Homo sapiens: one gene and its partners. The protein of the gene in region 5 interacts with the protein of the main gene of each other region in a pairwise test. Each region holds a gene or a part of one and is shown on either strand. Other genes may lie near its edges. The genes, in order: SMAP2, EPN3, PSORS1C1, SS18L1 and FAM168A.

The links.
Region 1: the proteins of FAM168A (region 5) and SMAP2 interact in a two-hybrid assay, tested with the Homo sapiens proteins (one large-scale study listed by BioGRID and IntAct).
Region 2: the proteins of FAM168A (region 5) and EPN3 interact in a two-hybrid assay, tested with the Homo sapiens proteins (one large-scale study listed by BioGRID).
Region 3: the proteins of FAM168A (region 5) and PSORS1C1 interact in a two-hybrid assay, tested with the Homo sapiens proteins (one large-scale study listed by BioGRID and IntAct).
Region 4: the proteins of FAM168A (region 5) and SS18L1 interact in binary tests that used the Homo sapiens proteins (3 or more experiments, as listed by UniProt).

Annotation. Positions count from the first base shown.
Region 1 is NC_000001.11:40,408,220-40,411,738, reverse strand, and holds part of SMAP2 (stromal membrane-associated protein 2), read right to left. Parts: intron 3,087-3,519; coding exon 3,001-3,086; intron 1,983-3,000; coding exon 1,904-1,982; intron 1-1,903.
Region 2 is NC_000017.11:50,535,728-50,539,246, forward strand, and holds part of EPN3 (epsin-3), read left to right. Parts: intron 1-693; 5' UTR 694-829; coding exon 830-1,391; intron 1,392-1,566; exon of another isoform or gene 1,567-1,774; intron 1,775-2,199; exon of another isoform or gene 2,200-2,351; coding exon 2,352-2,470; intron 2,471-2,863; exon of another isoform or gene 2,864-3,027; intron 3,028-3,156; coding exon 3,157-3,237; intron 3,238-3,459; coding exon 3,460-3,519.
Region 3 is NC_000006.12:31,131,794-31,135,312, reverse strand, and holds part of PSORS1C1 (psoriasis susceptibility 1 candidate gene 1 protein), read right to left. Parts: intron 1-3,519.
Region 4 is NC_000020.11:62,164,262-62,167,780, forward strand, and holds part of SS18L1 (calcium-responsive transactivator), read left to right. Parts: intron 1-1,160; coding exon 1,161-1,253; intron 1,254-3,519. UniProt on the Homo sapiens protein: Transcriptional activator which is required for calcium-dependent dendritic growth and branching in cortical neurons. Recruits CREB-binding protein (CREBBP) to nuclear bodies.
Region 5 is NC_000011.10:73,591,605-73,595,123, forward strand, and holds part of FAM168A (protein FAM168A), read right to left. Parts: intron 1-3,519.

The DNA of each region.
Region 1 (3,519 bases), on a different chromosome or scaffold from region 5:
TCTGTCCATTATAAAAAGAATAGTTTTTAACAAAGCCAGTTTCTTTTCATTTGATATTAAACGTCTTCACTTAGCAAATACTAATTATTGGCATAAAAATCTTCACAAAATATGAAAAAAATCTAAGTACATTAAATAACAAATTCTGAAATAGCTTTTTGGTAAATGGGAGGTTATTTCCTTCCTAAGAGAAACATCCGGTAACCGGGCTTGCTTTCATGGGTACAGTATACCAGCAATGAAATCATGAATACCCTGAGGGCAGAGCTGCTGTTTCCACAATAGCTGTGTACAAATAGCAACTCTACTCCTTCGTCATCTGAATTATCTCAGATACCCTTTTCTGACCTCATCTGAGTTCATATCTTTAGGCACAATGAACAGAGCTGGGCAGACAGACCACAGTTTTCTACAAATAAAACGAAATGTGTATGCTTGGGTTCTAAACTGTTTTTGATGATGCCATGCAAGCTGTAGCTGCACACTGGGTTCTTTCTTGGCACAGATATGATATTGACAAGTCCCTTTTCTGGATAACTGCAAGGTAAGAGTCCTTCATACACAGTTGAGAAGGAATCATTTTTACCTAACTATATGTATTACACTTACTTGCCTGTGTTGAAATTCACCTACCAGTTAATGCCCCTTTCACACAGCTTCATAAGATCAGCCTGAAGTGGATTCCAATTAGCTTAACTTTTAATTACCCAGAAGGGCTTGGAGCTCAGTGCAAACAGTGATTTCACTGGCTATTATATCATTATTACATAACTAGAATAGATGATAGATAGGTAGGACCTGCGCTGGAAGTGGAGAATCCCTTACTCTCAATACTTCTGTGACTAGATAAATAGCCAATTATTCCTAAGAGAATTTTCTGTAGAATCTTGTCAAAGGTTATTTAAAGGTATAAATAGTCATATCTATTGGTTCTCCATTAGCTGTCATTAGTTAGGCATATTTTCCTCTTTCAGAAATCATGCTGTCTGTCCCCCTGTGTGTTATATTTGTCCTAGTTATCATATACTGTATTGCAGATTCTAAACATGCCTAGGATGGAATGTGTTCTTGGCAACTGGTAGCCAGTCTCCCTCTGAAACCCTTCTCAGAAACAAGGGTCCCATTGGCAATCAGTCCAACACACTGGTTATCAGCAGGTAATGCTGGAAATATACATTGGTCAAACTGAAGGAAACTCTGGTGATTTAATTACACCTACTTTTGTTGATTTCATTTACAGGAAAAAAGTATATATGTGTGTATATATCTATGTAGATAGATATAGCTGTAGTACATATACACATATACTGTTTTATTTGATCTAGTATATGCAACATGTCCATCCCAAGAAATAATTCAAAACTGGGAATCATCACTAACACCTTCTAACTACAGATTAAGGCAAGAATTCACCGATAGGCAGAAGTTTGTTTCTGCCTCATGGTCTTGACTCAGTAACTGGCACTTTTTACTTTTGCTTAAAAATTTATATTGAGACAGGGTCAAACTCCGTTGCCTAGACTGGAATGAAGTGGTGCAATCACAGCTCACTGCAGCCTCAACCTCCCTGGCTCACGTAATCCTCCGACCTCAGCCTCCCAAGTAGCTGGTTATTACAGGCATGTATACCACCATGCCTGGCTAATTTTTAAATTTTTTGTAGAGATGGGGGTCTTTCTTTGTTGCCCAGGCTGGTCTTAAACTTCTAGGTTCAAGTGATCCTCCCACCTCAGCCTCCCAAAGTGATGGGATTAGGGGATGAGCCACCACACCTGGTCTACTTTTGCATTTTTTAAAAGATGGTTTTGGAGTGTTTTGGTAGCAGTTCTTCAACGTGTTCTCTGGCCTGATTTAATAAGCACATTACTTATTGTGGACAAAACTTGAAAGATGTATAACCAACCCTAAAGGCATTGATGTCCAGACTTCGGTCCATGTATTTCTTCTTCTCATATTTGTCTCGAATAAATCCTTCAACAGCTCTGCAAAAAGCTTATTAAGGATGAATCCAACAAGCCTCTCAAACAGCAAGAAGATAAAAGATCAATTGTGTTCCACGGAGCATTGTTCTCCTCCTTCCCTCTTGCCTGGTTTCCCCACATGGCTCCTGCCTCTTCATATGCAATTTCTCTGACCAAAACCTTAAAATGCCTCTTTCACAGTTAAAGCAGGGAATCATTACTTCCTATGCTTTCCCTTCAGCGTGATGATAGCAGCAAGTGGAATTAACCTTCAAACTGACATTAGAGGCTGTATGTGGCTGTTCTAGAATATAGGTAAAGCAGTCAAATGTCTATTTTAAAGCACTTAGGTCAATAGGCCTCAAACAAAGGCACGTAAGTGCCCCTTAAAAACATAAACTCTTGTGCCCCACTGCCAAATTCTGACCAGTGGGTCTTCTGCAAGGCCCCAAATCTGCATTTAACAGGTTCCACCTGAACCCATTAAAAAAAAAAGAACCTTAACAAGATGATCTACAAACTACATTTTGAGAAGCACTGCCTTTAAGGGATTTGGTTTTGTGTCCTAGGTGCTATGCTCTGTTGAACAGATGGTGGAAGAAAGTTATTGGTTATTGACAAACTGGTAAACAACAGTTAATTCTTTCACCCAAGACATAAAAAGATGATAAAAATGAATGGCAATTTTGCTGACTGCCAGGGTTAACAGAGCACAATGAACTACTCTTTTTAATCAAACAATAGTTTCAGAGATCCAAAATAAACTAGTGGAGATGTAACTTTATAGAAGAATTCACAGTGAAATCACTGCAGTCTTAATTCCAGAGTGAGTCTTCTTCAAGTGACACCGTATGACAATTCCGACATTCACAAATACATGTGCTTTTTGTGCACCTTGATTGCAGGACAGAGGACAAGCAAGGACACTGACTAATCCACATAGAGATGACCCAGTCACATTACAGGACTGGAGTCTTGTCTGACTCTCCCCAAGCATCAAAATACCACTCAGCCTTCTAAGTTGCTCCAGAAAAGATACGGGTCTATCTGAGGTCGCCGAAAGGTCTCAGGAAGATAGGCTTCATAAAGTCGGTTTGCCTTTCCATTTCCCATCTCTTGCATGCACTGTGACCAAAGAGAATGTAGAAACATGGAACGTCAGATCAAGAAAGAACTGAAAAACTTCTCACCCAATTCCACTACTGTACAATTGAAGAACCAACCTAGAGAGTGTCAGAACCAACATTTAAACTTGTGTATTCTGATTTCCAATTCATGATTCCCTCTACCTTACTAGGATTTCCCAATCATTTGCCCCAAGCTGTCTTTCCCCCACTCCATAGGTTCCTTTTACTGAAATATTTGTGTACCAAGATACATTCAATTCAGTAATAAATCAAGATCTCATTTGAAACTCTTAGATACACAGCTACCAATTAAAATGTCTACTTGGCAGGCAATGATCAGTGTTATCATTCTGAGTTTATACTATTAATCAATTCCAATAAATGTGTTTCCCATTAGGCTTTTAAGTAGACTCCTTAACACTTGTGAGGGA
Region 2 (3,519 bases), on a different chromosome or scaffold from region 5:
CTGTGCCTGGCATGGTGCCTGGCTCAGAAAAGGCCTCCGGGAAATAGGTGTTGAATGCATCAAACTACAAAAATTAACAATATGAGAAAAGTGAGCTGAGGAGCTAGGAAGGATAGGTCTTAAGCTAGATCTCAGCAGAAACAGAGGCAGTGGCCGAGCAGAAGCAAGGCAAGCGGGCATTCCTGGAATCCTGTTAGCGTTCCCCCATGAGGCCATGCACTCTTAGGTGGGGCTTCCTGGGGTCATCTTGGTTCCCCATGCAGCAGCTCTGTGATCTCGGACAAGTCACTTAATATTACAGGGTCTCGCTCTGTTGCCCAGTGGCCTGACCATGGCTCACTGCAGCCTCCAACTACTGGCCTCAAGTGATCCTCTTGCCTTGGCCTCCTGAAGTCCTGGAATTACAGGCGTGAGCCACTGCACCGGGCCCATTTAATACTCTGAGCCCCACCTTTCCCATCTGTGGATGGAGGTAATGATAATAGCATCTTTGGGGTGTGGCTGTGAAGATAGATAGATGAGCATGCAAAGCTCCAAGTGCCTGCTGAATTGTAAGTGAAATAAGAACGTGTGCCGCTGAAGGCTGTCCCTGGAGGCAGGGACACTCTGGCCAGGCCTCATTTAGTTGGTCAGTGGCTGAGTGACCCATGAGGTAGGCCTCTGCCCCTGAGTTCCTGGCCCTCTCTTCCTCAGCCCCATGTGGAACCCAAGGATGCAGCTGCTCTGCTAACACGGCAGCCCATCCTTCAAGACTGTGACCTCGCCACAGTGGCCCTCAGCCCTCCACCTCCGGCGGGGGCGAGGGCCACCCACCTCCAAGTCTCCAGCCATGACGACCTCCGCACTCCGGCGCCAGGTGAAGAACATCGTGCACAACTACTCCGAGGCAGAAATCAAGGTGCGCGAGGCCACCAGCAATGACCCCTGGGGCCCCCCTAGTTCGCTCATGTCCGAGATCGCTGACCTGACCTTCAACACAGTGGCCTTCACCGAAGTCATGGGCATGCTGTGGCGGCGGCTCAATGACAGCGGCAAGAACTGGCGGCACGTGTACAAGGCTCTAACATTGCTGGACTACCTGCTCAAGACGGGCTCCGAGCGGGTGGCCCACCAGTGCCGCGAGAACCTCTACACCATCCAGACACTCAAGGACTTCCAGTACATCGACCGCGACGGCAAGGACCAGGGCGTCAACGTGCGCGAGAAGGTCAAGCAGGTGATGGCCCTGCTCAAGGATGAGGAGCGGCTGCGGCAGGAGCGAACCCACGCCCTCAAGACCAAGGAGCGCATGGCACTGGAGGGCATCGGCATTGGCAGTGGGCAGCTGGGCTTCAGCCGCCGCTACGGCGAGGACTACAGCCGCTCCCGGGGCTCCCCGTCCTCCTACAACTGTGAGTAAGCCCCGGTGTGTGGCTGGGATGGGGAGGTGGCCCGACTTCCATTCCTGGCTCTGCAATCCAAGCCATGGTTCATAATACCTACCTCCGAGGGGTGTTATGAAGATTCAGACATAAGGAATGTAACACGCAAGGCGCAACACCCGGCACATAGGAGGTGCTCAACAAGTTAGCTCAGATAATAACGTTGTTATAGATTCATTATCATTCGTTAGCTGCCTGATAGGATGGCGCGATAGTGGAAGCATGGGTTTGGAGTCAGATAGCATTCTATATTCTGCTTCCTCCAAGCTGTGTGACCTGGGCAACCAGTTCTCTGAACCTCAGTTTCCTCATCTGTACAGTGGGGATAAGCTCACCTACCTCCATTGTTTGATCTGAGAATGAAATGAGACCAGGTTCAGGAACGTCCTCTACCCTGCACCCAGACACATGGCATTCCCCTTCATCCCCCTACCTGAGGGCAGCGGCTAGACAGTCCCTGACTCTCCTGCCCCCAGTCATGGGGGCTTCCAGGATCTGAGGAATACTCAGAATGGCCCGCCTTCCATAAAGCCCTTGACAGTTTGCTGAGGGCTTTGAGGTTGTGACCTCGTTGGACTAGAACCTCCTATCCTTGCACCTCCCTTGCCCCCAAGCCAGGACAGGGTCCATCTGGAAGTCCAAGAGCTGGAGTCAGGGCACCTGGGTTCAAGTCCTGCTTCAGGAACCTGGTCAGGGGCCCTAAGTGCCGCCTGTGCATCTGCTAAGGAGGGACTGGAGCCGCCCCTCCATCCGGGATGGGTTGGGATGGGGAACTTACAGAGTGCCTGGCACACTGCTTGGCCCACGGGGGCCTCAACGGCCGTTGTTCCCCTCCTCTCAGTTCTCTTGAGCCTCAGCTTCCTGGCAGGCAGAGGGGTGTGGGAGCCGATGGGTAATCGTGTGGTCACAGAGACATGATGGTCATTGCAGCCTCCTCTTCGTCACCCCGCTATACCTCCGACCTGGAGCAGGCCCGGCCTCAGACGTCAGGGGAAGAGGAACTGCAGCTGCAGCTGGCCCTCGCCATGAGCCGTGAGGAGGCAGAGAAGGTGAGGCCATGCAGCCCCACTGCGGTGGGGAGGGGATGGGCTAGGGGGAGAGAGTGCCTGGGAGCCCCTTGGCCTTGACTCAGGCTCTGTCACCCAAAGCCCCAGTCCTGTGCCCAAGGACAGCACAAGACCCATTATCTCTGTCGGTTTGTCGCAGGCAGGGACTGCCTCCCTGCCTCCAGTCCTCTCCACTGGGCCTGGAAAGGGTGGCGAGTGTACAATTAGGGGCACATGCTATGTCTTGGGGTGCCTGCTACCACCTCATGGTGGAGTGGGTGAGTGTGCTCAGACATATTCCTAGGAGACACTGGGATATGCTTCCCACCCCCGCCCACCAGCTATCCTTTTGGGGAGACAAGGACAGGCCCCCGATATCATCATCTTTGCCATTACCTCTGTGGATCCAGGAAGACCAGGCAGGAAGCAGCTGGGCCTCACACAGGAGGGCCTGAGGAACTCTCAGAGGATTCAGAAGCGAAAGATCAGTCTTCCTGACCTTTAAACTGCATTTCAGATGCAGGCAGGGAGAAGGCCACGCCCACCCTGCTGACTGAGCGGCAAATGGCCCATGCACACTGAGGGTGGGCATTAGTGTCTCCATCCCCATGACCCAGGCAGGCCTATACTGCCCTTCTGGTCCCAAGGTGGGGGTACAGGGCCAAGTTTACCCCTCTCTTCCTCCGCAGCCTGTCCCCCCAGCCTCCCACAGGGACGAGGACCTGCAGCTGCAGCTGGCTCTGCGCCTGAGCCGGCAGGAGCACGAGAAGGTAGTGGGCCGAGCCCGCTGGGCTGCCGGTGCTGCTGCTGCTGCTGGTGGAGGTGCTTCAGGGCACTAACAGCCTCCTCCCGCTGTACCCGGTGGCCCTGCTGCTCCTAACCTCTCAGCTGCCTCCCACCCTGCACTCTCTCGACTCCAGCCTCTGGTGCACAGGTCCCCGGATTCCCGCCTGAGCTGCTCATGCTCCTAACTCTTTCTGTGCCTTCTGCAGGAGGTGAGGTCCTGGCAGGGTGATGGCTCCCCCATGGCCAATGGTGCAGGGGCCGTGGTC
Region 3 (3,519 bases), on a different chromosome or scaffold from region 5:
GTGAGCCGAGATCGCACCACTGCACTCCAGCCTGGGAGACAGAGTGAGACTCCATCTCAAAAATAATAAATAAATAAATAAATACATAAATAGTGATGTGATTTTTAACATGTATTTGCAATTCCTTGAAAAGCATACCCTTTGGAATGCTATTAAATTATTACAAATGTTAAATGTTGACTTAAAAATGTGCAAGGGGCTGGGCAAGGTGGCTCATGCCTGTAATACCAGCACTTCGGGAGGCCGAATCGGGTGGATTGCTTGTGGCCAGGAGTTTGAGACCAGCCTAGGCAACATGGCAAAACTGTTTCTACAGAAAATTTAAGAAATTAGCCAGATGTGGTGGCCCGCACCTGTAGTCCCAGCTACTCAGGAGGCTGAGGTGGGAAGATTGCTTGACCCTGGGAGGTTGAGGCTATAGTGAGCCAAGATGGCACCACTGCACTCCAGTCTGGGCAACAGAGTGAGACCGTGTCTCAAAACAATACAAATGTGCAAGGGACATAGTTTTTCAAAATCCTTTAAAGAGGCAATCAGGTTAGAAGGACAGGAGCTCAGAGATCCCAATGGTCTACTGTCAATCAAGTATCCGACCAGGGTTAGGGATGAAGAGGGGTTAAAAGAAACTGAGGTTGCATAACCTTAAATTTCACCACTTAGAACCCAGTTTGCTTATGTGGTAACTCTCATTAAAAACTACATATGAGAGGCCAGGCGCGGTGGCTCACGCCTGTAATCCCAGCACTTCGGGAGGCCAAGGCGGGCGAATCACGAGGTCAGGAGATCGAGACCATCCTGGCTAACATGGTGAAACCCAGTCTCTACTAAAAAATACAAAAAAAATTAGCCGGGCATGGTGGCCGGCGCCTGTAGTCCCAGCTACTCGGGAGGCTGAGACAGGAGAATGGCGTGAACCTGGGAGGTGGAGCTTGCAGTGAGCCGAGATCGTGCCACTGCACTCCAGCCTGGGCGACAGAGCGAGACTCCATCTCAAAAAAACAAACAAATAAAAAACCAAAAAACTACACATGAGATCAGGCGTGGTGGCTCACACCTGTAATCCTAGCACTTTGGGAGGCTGAGGCGGGTGGATTACCTGAGGTCAGGAGTTCGAGACCAGCCTCACCAACATGGTGAATCCCTGTCTCTACTAAAAATACAAAAAAATTAGCTGGGCATGGTGGCGGGCGCCTGTAATCCCAGCTTCTCAGGAGGCTGAGGCAGGAGAATCCATTGAACCTGGGAGGCAGAGGTTGCGGTGAGCCAAGATCGTGCCACTGCACTGCAGCCTGGGCGACAGAGCAAGACCCCATCTCAGAAAACAAAAAACAAAAAAAAACTACATGTGGTCCGAATGAAACAAAACTAAGCTTAGGGTTTAGGAATAATCTGAGAACACATAAGAATTGTAGGTTGAGCCTAGTAGAATTAAATAGGCCCCAAGCTGGACTGGATTCACCCATTCATTCATTCATTATCTTACTTCCTCAATGTGTCCACGAATGCCGGGTGCCATGGGAGAATATAAGAATATAAATAATAAAAATATGTAGTTTCTACTCAGAACTTAAAATTGAGAGAGACAGAATTTACAGGCAAGTTTAAATAACATCAAAGACAGTAAAAATGCATATTTCCTAATAATGACATGAGCGAGCGCCAACGTAATAGCCTTGGCAGTAAACGCCGTGAGTTCAGAAGAGTCACGGTGAGCTGGACTAGTCAGGGGAGGCTTCTGGGAGGAGGGCCCGGAGCGGGACCTGAGAGAAGAACAGGCAGTGTGTCTGGAGGATGGACCAGGAAGGGCAGACCCGGAGCCTCATACAGGGTGCAGGTACAAAAGCTGCCCCCAGGTGATGAGCTCTCGTGGCCAGAACCACCAGCTCTAGGGACCAGCCCTTGCGCGTATGTGCATCAGCCTTCGTGTGTGCTGTTCCCTATGTCTGGAATGGCCGTCCTCTCCCAAACCAGCTGCATTTCTCCTCAGGGATGCCTCTGCCTACACCACTCCTTCCCGCACCCCACCCGACCCCCAACGCCCTTCACCCCAGTCACCCTATGGCAATGATTTATTCATGTCTGTCTTCCCTTCCCAGGCCATGAACCTTGTGGGGCAGGGACTGTGTTCTACGCATTTCTTCTTGAACCCCTTTACCATTTTTGTGCCTACGGACTCCCAGAGTGCTAAATCACTCCCAACAGCCCCGCCTATGCCTCTGCCGGGACCTTTTCCAGGGGCAGAGAGCTGGAAGCACTTGGAAATTTTTCTCTCCCACATCCTCACATGCCACCACCCTCCCACTCCCCCAGCCCGCCCCCAGACCTTAACCAACGGTGGACAAATATGAAGGTGTCAGTACCCCAGCCCTCCATGAGACTTAGCTTGGTTCCACTCATGTGCTTGGGTCCCACTTTCCCACTCCCTTTCCACTCCTCCCCACCCTCATTACTTTTTTTTTTTTTTAAGACAGGGTCTCACTCTGTCACCCAGGCTAAAGTGCAGTGGCACAATCATAACTCATTGCAGTCTCAACCTCCTGGGCTCAAGTGGTCCTCCTGCCTCAGCCTTCTGAGTAGCTGGTACTATAGATGCACTCCACTCACTGGGCTAATTTTTTAATTTCTTGCAGAAATGATGTCTTGCCATGTTGCCCAGGCTGGTCTGGAACTCCTGGACTCAAGCAATCTTCCTGCCTTGGCCTCCCAAAGCACTGGGATTACAGGTGTGAGCCATCATGCCCAGTCCCCTCATTACTTTTATTTATTTATTTATTTATTTATTCAATTTTTGAGACGGAGTCTCCCTCTCGTTGCCCAGACTGGAATGCAGTGGTGTGATCTCAGCCCACTGCAATCTCCGCCTCCTGAGTTCAAGCGATTCTCCTGCCTCTGCTTCCTGAGTAGCTGGGATTACAGGCATGCGCCACTATGCCCAGCTAATTTTTGTATTTTTAGTAGAAACAGGGTTTCACCATGTTGGCCAGGCTGGTCTCAAACTCCTGACCTCAGGTGATCTGCCCGCCTTGGCCTCCCAAAGTGTCGAGATTACAGGCATGAGCCACTGTGCCTGGCCTATTTATTTTTGAGACAGTTCTCACTCTGTTGCCCAGGCTGGAGTACAGTGGCACGATCACAGCTCACTGAAGCCTGGACCCAAGCGATCCTCCCACCTAAGCCTCCCAAGTAGCTGGATCACAGGCGCATGCCACCACGTCTGGCTAATTTTTTTTGTAGAGATTGGGTCTTACTATATTGCCCAACCTGGTCTCAAACTCCTGAGCTCAAGAAACCCTCCTGCCTCCGCCTCTCAAAGTGTTGGGATTATAGGCGTGAGCCACCCTGCCCAACTTCTCATTAGTTTTAAATAAATCTCTTTTACTTGAATCTTTGTCTCAGGGCCTGCTTCTGGGGAATCCAACCTAGGATGCAAAGTATTTGCTACACACTATTGCAACTACTTTCTACTGCGCATGTGCCATAGGGCACTGTTGGTAAATGCTCTACAGCTTAAGCTCTCGT
Region 4 (3,519 bases), on a different chromosome or scaffold from region 5:
GGCCTGACCCCGCCCAGGAACGCAGAGCAGCTGCAGGGGCAAGGAGGGCAAGGAGGGCAAGGAGGGTGTGGCCACTGCAGTGTGTCCTCAGTCATTCCAGCTCAGGCCTGGGCTACAGGCAGAGTGGCCAGACGCCCTGCAGGAGCAAGGTAGGGGATGGGGTGAGCTGGGCTGGCAGTGGTGCCTGGCCTCTGCAGAGAGAAGCTGTGGCACACACCGCTGCACTGGCCTCCACGCGGCCTTGCCTCTACTTCCTGAAAGGCTGTGGGAGTTGGAGGCGGATAATTGTAGCTCCTAGCTGTAGATAGGTGGAAATGTTCAAGAAGGCGCCTCCCAGCTTCACAGAGAATGCCCTGAAGGTGACGGCTCCACCTGCAGCACCTCTCCTCCTGCACCTTCTCATCTCTGCAGAGTATTTTACCGTCGTCACCTTTCAGTCTTTGCATAGTCCCAGGGCTTGTGGAAGGGATACTGAAAGTGGTCTTGGCTGAAAACAGCGGTTCACACCTGTCATTCCGGCACTTTGGGAGGCTGAGGCAGGAGGATCGCTTCAGCCCAGGAGGTTGAAGCTGCATTGAGCCATGATCGCACCACCACACTCCAGCCTTGGTGACAGAGCAGGATCCTGTCTCTAAATAAAGTAAAAATAACAATAAAATAAAGTGGTCTTAAAGGCTGGATTGATCCCTGGGAGGCATCCAGGCAGGGAGCTGGCCTCAGCCAGCAAGGGGCAGGTGCACAGACAGGTGGGCAGGTGGCAGCAGGGCAAGCCACCCTGGCCACGTGATGGTCACATGCAGCGAAGGCCTCGGTAAGGGTTGGACACCCCTGCCTGCGTCCTCCCAGGAGCTAGCGGTGGCGGGGAGAAGGCAGTCGGGTCACTAGCATGGCTGTGTGGCAGGCACTGAAAGCGCTGATCCTCTGCATAAATCCCCAGGTAGCTTCACAGTCGCCCCGAGAAGGAGGCATTGATGTCTGCATTTCAGTGGGGAGGCCGAGGCTCAGGAGGTTGGGGCATGGTTTTGGGGAACACGGGTCCTGCCGGCTCTTGTTGCCTCCCTGGCCAGACAACATCTCCCCAGCCTGGGTCTCAGTTGCCTCCTCCGGGACCTGTGCAGTGCACAGCCTCCGCTGACTGTCGCCGTCTCCGTTTCGCACAGGCCATGGCGATTACGCCTACCAGCAGTCATCCTACACGGAGCAGAGCTACGACCGGTCCTTCGAGGAGTCCACGCAGCACTACTATGAGGGGGGTAAGGAGCACGGCTGCGTGCTGGGCTCGAGCGTAAGCGCCACACGCAGCAGAGTTAAGACGCTGCACCCTTAGGAGCACGCGGTGCCTGCCTTCAGTGAGTCCCTTAAATCACAGCACAGCGCGTGGGAGGAGAGACAGTGTGTTCTGGAAGCTGGAAATTCAGGCTGTGTCGGGAGCCCCGCTTGCCTTATGGGTGTGTTCGTGAGACAGGAAAGGATTCAGCCGGCCATGCTGGGGTTGGGGGCACAGACTTGGTTATTGGGTCCAGCCAGGGAGCGTGGGGCCTGCGACAGGAAGGATTCAGCCGGCCATGCTGGGGTTGGGGACACAGACTCTGTTATTGGGTCTGGCCAGGGATCGTGGGGCCTGCGAGCCACTCTCAGAGCTTCCTCAGCTGGAGGCCAGCAGTGGCTGCGCTGGGTGTGGCCTCGCGTTTCTTCAGACACCTGCAGGCCAGGAAACGCACATCTGTGGCTGGGGGCTTGCCGCCCTTCATGGCGGTCCTGGGCAGTGCTGCGCTGGGGGCTGCGTGTCGGGTGGACTTGCCCCTTTCTGTGGTGTCTGTGCCCCCACCCTGGCTGCCCTGAAACCCCAACAGAACATCCCAGAATGTGGAGTTGGGAAGAGGTACACACAGCCCGTTCCAGTCCCACCCCGGGATAAAGATGGCCCCCAGAGAAGAGCTGATGATCGCCTGCGGGATTGCGCAACCTCGTCCGGGAGGGAAGGCGGGCCTGCAGTCCCTGGGGAGAGGGGCCTCGTGTCTGCTGACGCTGACCGGCAGGCAGCAGTGGCTGAGGCCTTCCCACTGCAGGGCTGCAATTTATCAAGAGGTAACAGTGTTGGTGAGGCTTCACCAGGTACACAAAGCAGGCAGGCACTAAACGGCTACAGATTTCCTTGTTTGGGTTACTTCTTAAAGAATTGGATGTGTAAAGGTTTTGCTTCTGAGCTTACACATCTCAGCCTGCTGTGAAGAAATAAAGCACGCAAGTGTAGGCACATATAGAAACATCACGGTGTGCGCTACGAATGCCTGCAACGTTGAAATGTCAGTTACACCTTTGTAAACCTGGGGGAAACAAAAAGTACATGAATACATAATGAAAGTTTAAAAGAAGAAAGAGCCTAGGTGTTGTGGCTCACGCCTATAATCCCAGCACTTTAGGAAGCTGAGGTGGGTGGATCACCTGAGGTCAGGAGTTTGAGACCAGCCTGGCCAACACGGTGAAACCCCGTCTCTACTAAAAATACAAAAATTAGTTGGACGTGGTGGCATGTGCCTGTAATCTGAGCTACTCAAGAGGCTGAGGCAGGAGAATTGCTTGAACCCGGGAGGTGTAGGTTGCAGTGAGCTGAGATCATGCCATTGCACTCCAGCCTGGGCAACAAGAGTGAAACTTTGTCTCAAAAAAAATAAAAAGAAATAAAAAAAAGAAATGGCCAGGCATGGTGGCTTACGCCTGTAATCCCAGCACTTTGGGAGGCCAGTGGAGGAGGATTGCTTGAGCTCAGGAGTTTGTTTGTTTTTTTTTTTTTTTTTTTTTGAGACGGAGTCTCACTCTGTCGCCGAGGCTGGAGTGCAGTGGTATGATCTTGGCTCACTGCCACCTCCGCCTCCCAGGTTCAAGCAATTCTCCTGCCTCAGCCTCTTGAGTAGCTCGGATTACAGGCCCCGCCACCACACCCAGCTAATTTTTGTATTTTCAGTAGAGATGGGGTTTCATCATGTTGGTCAGTCTGGTCTCGAACCCCTGACCTCATGATCCACCTGCCTCAGCCTCCCAAAGTGCTGGGATTACAGGCGTGAGCCACCGCGCCCGGCCGAGCTCAGGAGTTTGAGGCCAGCATGGGCAACATGGCAAAACCCTTTCTCTCCCGAAAAAAAAAAAAAAAATGCCGGGCGTGGTGGCGGGTACCTGTAATCCCAGCTACTCAGGAGGCTGAGGTGGGAGAATCGCTTGAACCCAGAGGCAGAGGTTGCAGTGAGTTGAGATTGCACTACAGCACTCCAGCCTGGGTGACCGAGCCAGACCCTGTCTCAAAACAAAAGCCACCCTGTGGCCAGCACCCAGAGGCTATCTTCTGGCATATTGGCTGCAGTGGTGCCTCCGTAAGCCCTGGGAGTCAGCAGGATCTCTGCCATCATGGGCCTGGCCCTGTCCCTTCCAGCTGGAGCACAGGGTTCAGCCTTGTCCATGGCGAGGTGTCCACATGCGTCTGCCCAAGGCTGCCACACTTTGTCCCAAAAACAAACGCAGGAT
Region 5 (3,519 bases):
GCTCAAGTGATCCTCCCACCTCAGCCTCCAAAATAGCTATGAACAGAGGTGCACGCCACCACATCCAGATAATATTTTTGTTTTTTGTAGAGACTGGATCTCACTATGTTGATCAGATTGGTCTTGAACTCCTGGGCTCAAGCGATCTTCCCACCTTGGCCTCCCAAAATCCTGGGATTACAGGTGTGAGCCACTGCACCCAGCTACCCTCTTAGAGTCTTAATTTCTTCATCCTTAAAATGAAAATAATGCCACATGACCAACCTAAGAACTATATATAAAATGGCGCCATTATATTTGCATAAGTATAAATAGCATAGCTGTTATCTACTGATAGAGACATTTGCTATCAACTCAAAATAAAAGATAGAGGAAGACACATTAGAAAACTAAAATACTTAGAAAAATTATAAAACAGAGGCTAGAAAAGAAATACAAGTTAGCAGAAATCGTCAAGCTTGAGCGACATGATCAGAAGGCAAATCAAGATCATAATCTCAAGTAGCCAAGGATTGAAGTTTACTGTGAAAAATATATCATCTCAGGGTTCCTTCAAAATGTCTATATCTAAGAAAAAGCACAACCTATATCATCATAAAATAGGCATATTCTGAAAGGACCCAGACACCTGCCTAACTGGCAGGAGGAGGAGGTGTATTGGAACTTTATAAACTGAGGTTTTCTCAGAGTGTCTTCATACAGAAAATAATGGCTCATTTAATAAAATGTTAAACTTTTAGATAAACATAATTTGACAAAAAAATTCTATACCATTGTTTTCAATACTAAAGATATGCATAACTGTCCAAGGAAGTAAATTTAACAAAATAGAGAAAGAAATATGAACTTGGTTTAGTCTCTTTCCTCTTCAATATTTTACAACTTTGAGTTGATTTCTGTTAACGTACCAGGGGTCGGCCAGCTATGGCCCGCCCATGGCCTATTTTTGTATGGCCTGTGAGTTTTACATTCTTAAAACCACATAAAAGGAGGAGAAAGAGAAGGGGAGGGAGAAGAAGGAATGGGGAGAAGCAAGAGGAGGGGCTTCAGGAAGGAGAAGAACGGGGAGGGAGATGGGGAGACAAAAAGGAAGGGGAGTGGAAGGGAGGAGAAAGAACAACAGAGGCCATATGTGGCACAAAATATTTTCTACAAAAAGCATTTGCCAGCCAGGCATGGTGCCACATGCCTGCATTTGTAAGCACTTTGGGAGGCCGAGGAAGGAGGATCACTTGACCAGGACAACATAGCGAGACCCTGTCTCTACCAAAAAAAAAAAAAAGTGTTACTGGGTAATAGGACTAAAAACAATACTTATGCTTCTTTTTACTTTTTGTAATTTCTAGTTTTTATCATGAGCACACATTATTTAATGGTGGAAGAAATAAAGCTTTTTTAAAAGTTAAAAAATAAGAATAAGAATAAAGCAAGTCAGAAGAATATTTATCCTATAATTCTATTTATAAAAAGTTGCAAAGGTAAAAAATATACTGTTTAGGGATATGCACATATTTGGTAAAAGTATAAAGAAAAGCAAAGAAATGATTCACATAAAATTTAGGAAACTGTTTATCTCTGAGGGAGAGAGAAGATGGGAGATTCAATCAAGTAGGACCTCACAAGAGGCTTTAAAGGTACTAGAAATCTCCTTTTTGTTAAGCTGGGTAGCAAGTAGAAAAGCCTTCAATTTGTTATTCTTTAAGTTGTGGGTTTATGTTAAATATACTTTTATACATATGACATATTTTACAATTTAAAAAAAGGATATAAATGGGGATGACAAATTAGAATTTGGGGGCTGTAACCCAGACTTTTCCACTGACTGTGTAACCTTAAACAAGTCATTTAACCTCTCAGAGCATAATTTTTCTTCTTATTTTATTAATGAGGAAGCTAACAGCTAACATCTGTTTAGGACTTTGGCATTTAAAGAACTGTTTAAAGTTCCTAGACTGTAAACATGCAAATATGCATGAGATCATAAAACAAAATCATACCTCATTAATAAATACCACAATACTAAGAACTCATTGGTAGGGCACACAAGGCTATTCACCATTCTAGCCTCTGCCTATCTTTCTAACAATAAAGGCAACAACTAATTTTTTTAATGTGTACTATAAAACATATTGTGTGAAATGCTTTCCATTGATTATCTTATTTAATCCTCAAAACAATCCTATGATGTTAATTCTATTATTCGCACTTTACAGATGAGCCCATTGTGCCCAACGTCACACAGCTAATAGTAAGTGGTAGACAGACTTCAAAACCCACATTTAACCATAGCATTCATTTTGCCTCACTTTTCTCACCGTATTTGTCTATCTTTCCCATGACACTGAAAGCTCCTTGACAACTGCTTTCTGTTCATTTTTATTTCCCCTGGCACTTAGCAGACATTCATTAAATAAATAAATAGTGAACAGATATTTCATATATGTACAGTGTTTTCAGGACATGAACTGGTTTGTTCCCCTTGACAGCCTTGTGAAGTATGAAAGTTTGATTGTGTGACAGGGTCTCATTCTGTAACCCAGACTGCAGTGCAGGGAAGCACGATCATGGCTCACTGCAGCCTTGACCTCCCTGGCTCAAGCAATCCTCCCACCTCCCTCCTGAGTATCTGGGATTACAGGTATACGCTACCACACCCAGCAAATTTTTTTTTTTTTTTGTGGAGACGGGTCTCCCTATGTTGCCCTCACTGGTCTCGAACTCCTAGGCTCAAGCAATACTCCCAGCTCAGCCTCCCAAAGTCTGGGATTATGGGCGTGAGCCACTATGCCTGGCCAGTTTTTTTGGTTTTTGAGGTTTTTTTGTGTGTGTATTTTTACCTTTTTAACCAAAGTTAAGTGTACAATTCAGTGGTATTAACTATGTTCACAATGTTTTGCAGCCATTACCACTAAATATGAAAGGTTTTTTGTTTGTTTTTTGTTTGTTTGTTTTGAGACAGAGTTTCGCTCTTGTTGCCTATGCTGGAGTGCAATGGCGCAATCGTGGCTCACTGCCCACCTCCCCAGTTCTAGCAATTCTCCTGCCTCAGCCTCCCAAGTAGCTGGGATTACAGGCACGTGCTACCAGCTAATTTTTGTATTTGTAGTAGAGATGGGGTTTTGCCATGTTGGCCAGGCTGATCTCAAACTCCTGACCTCAAGTGATCCACCCACCTCGGCCTCCCAAAGTGCTGGGACTACTGGCGTGAGCCACCACGCCTGGCCATCTGAAAGGTTTTTAATGACTTGACTGAAATCACTCAGCTTTCAAGTAGTAGAACTGGGATTTGAATCTGGGACTCAACTCCTAAACTCATGGGCTATTCGTTCCACAAAGGCTTCTGTCTATCAATACCTCCATCTGCTCTCTTCTCACCAAGATATCGGGAGGATCAAATGAGGTAAAGATACAAAAACACATTACTACTACACAGGTAACCACGGCTGTGGAAAAAAAAAATCCACCAACACATTTCTCCCAGGCACTTTTCATTTTGGGCTTTCAAAAGCTAGGGCTTTA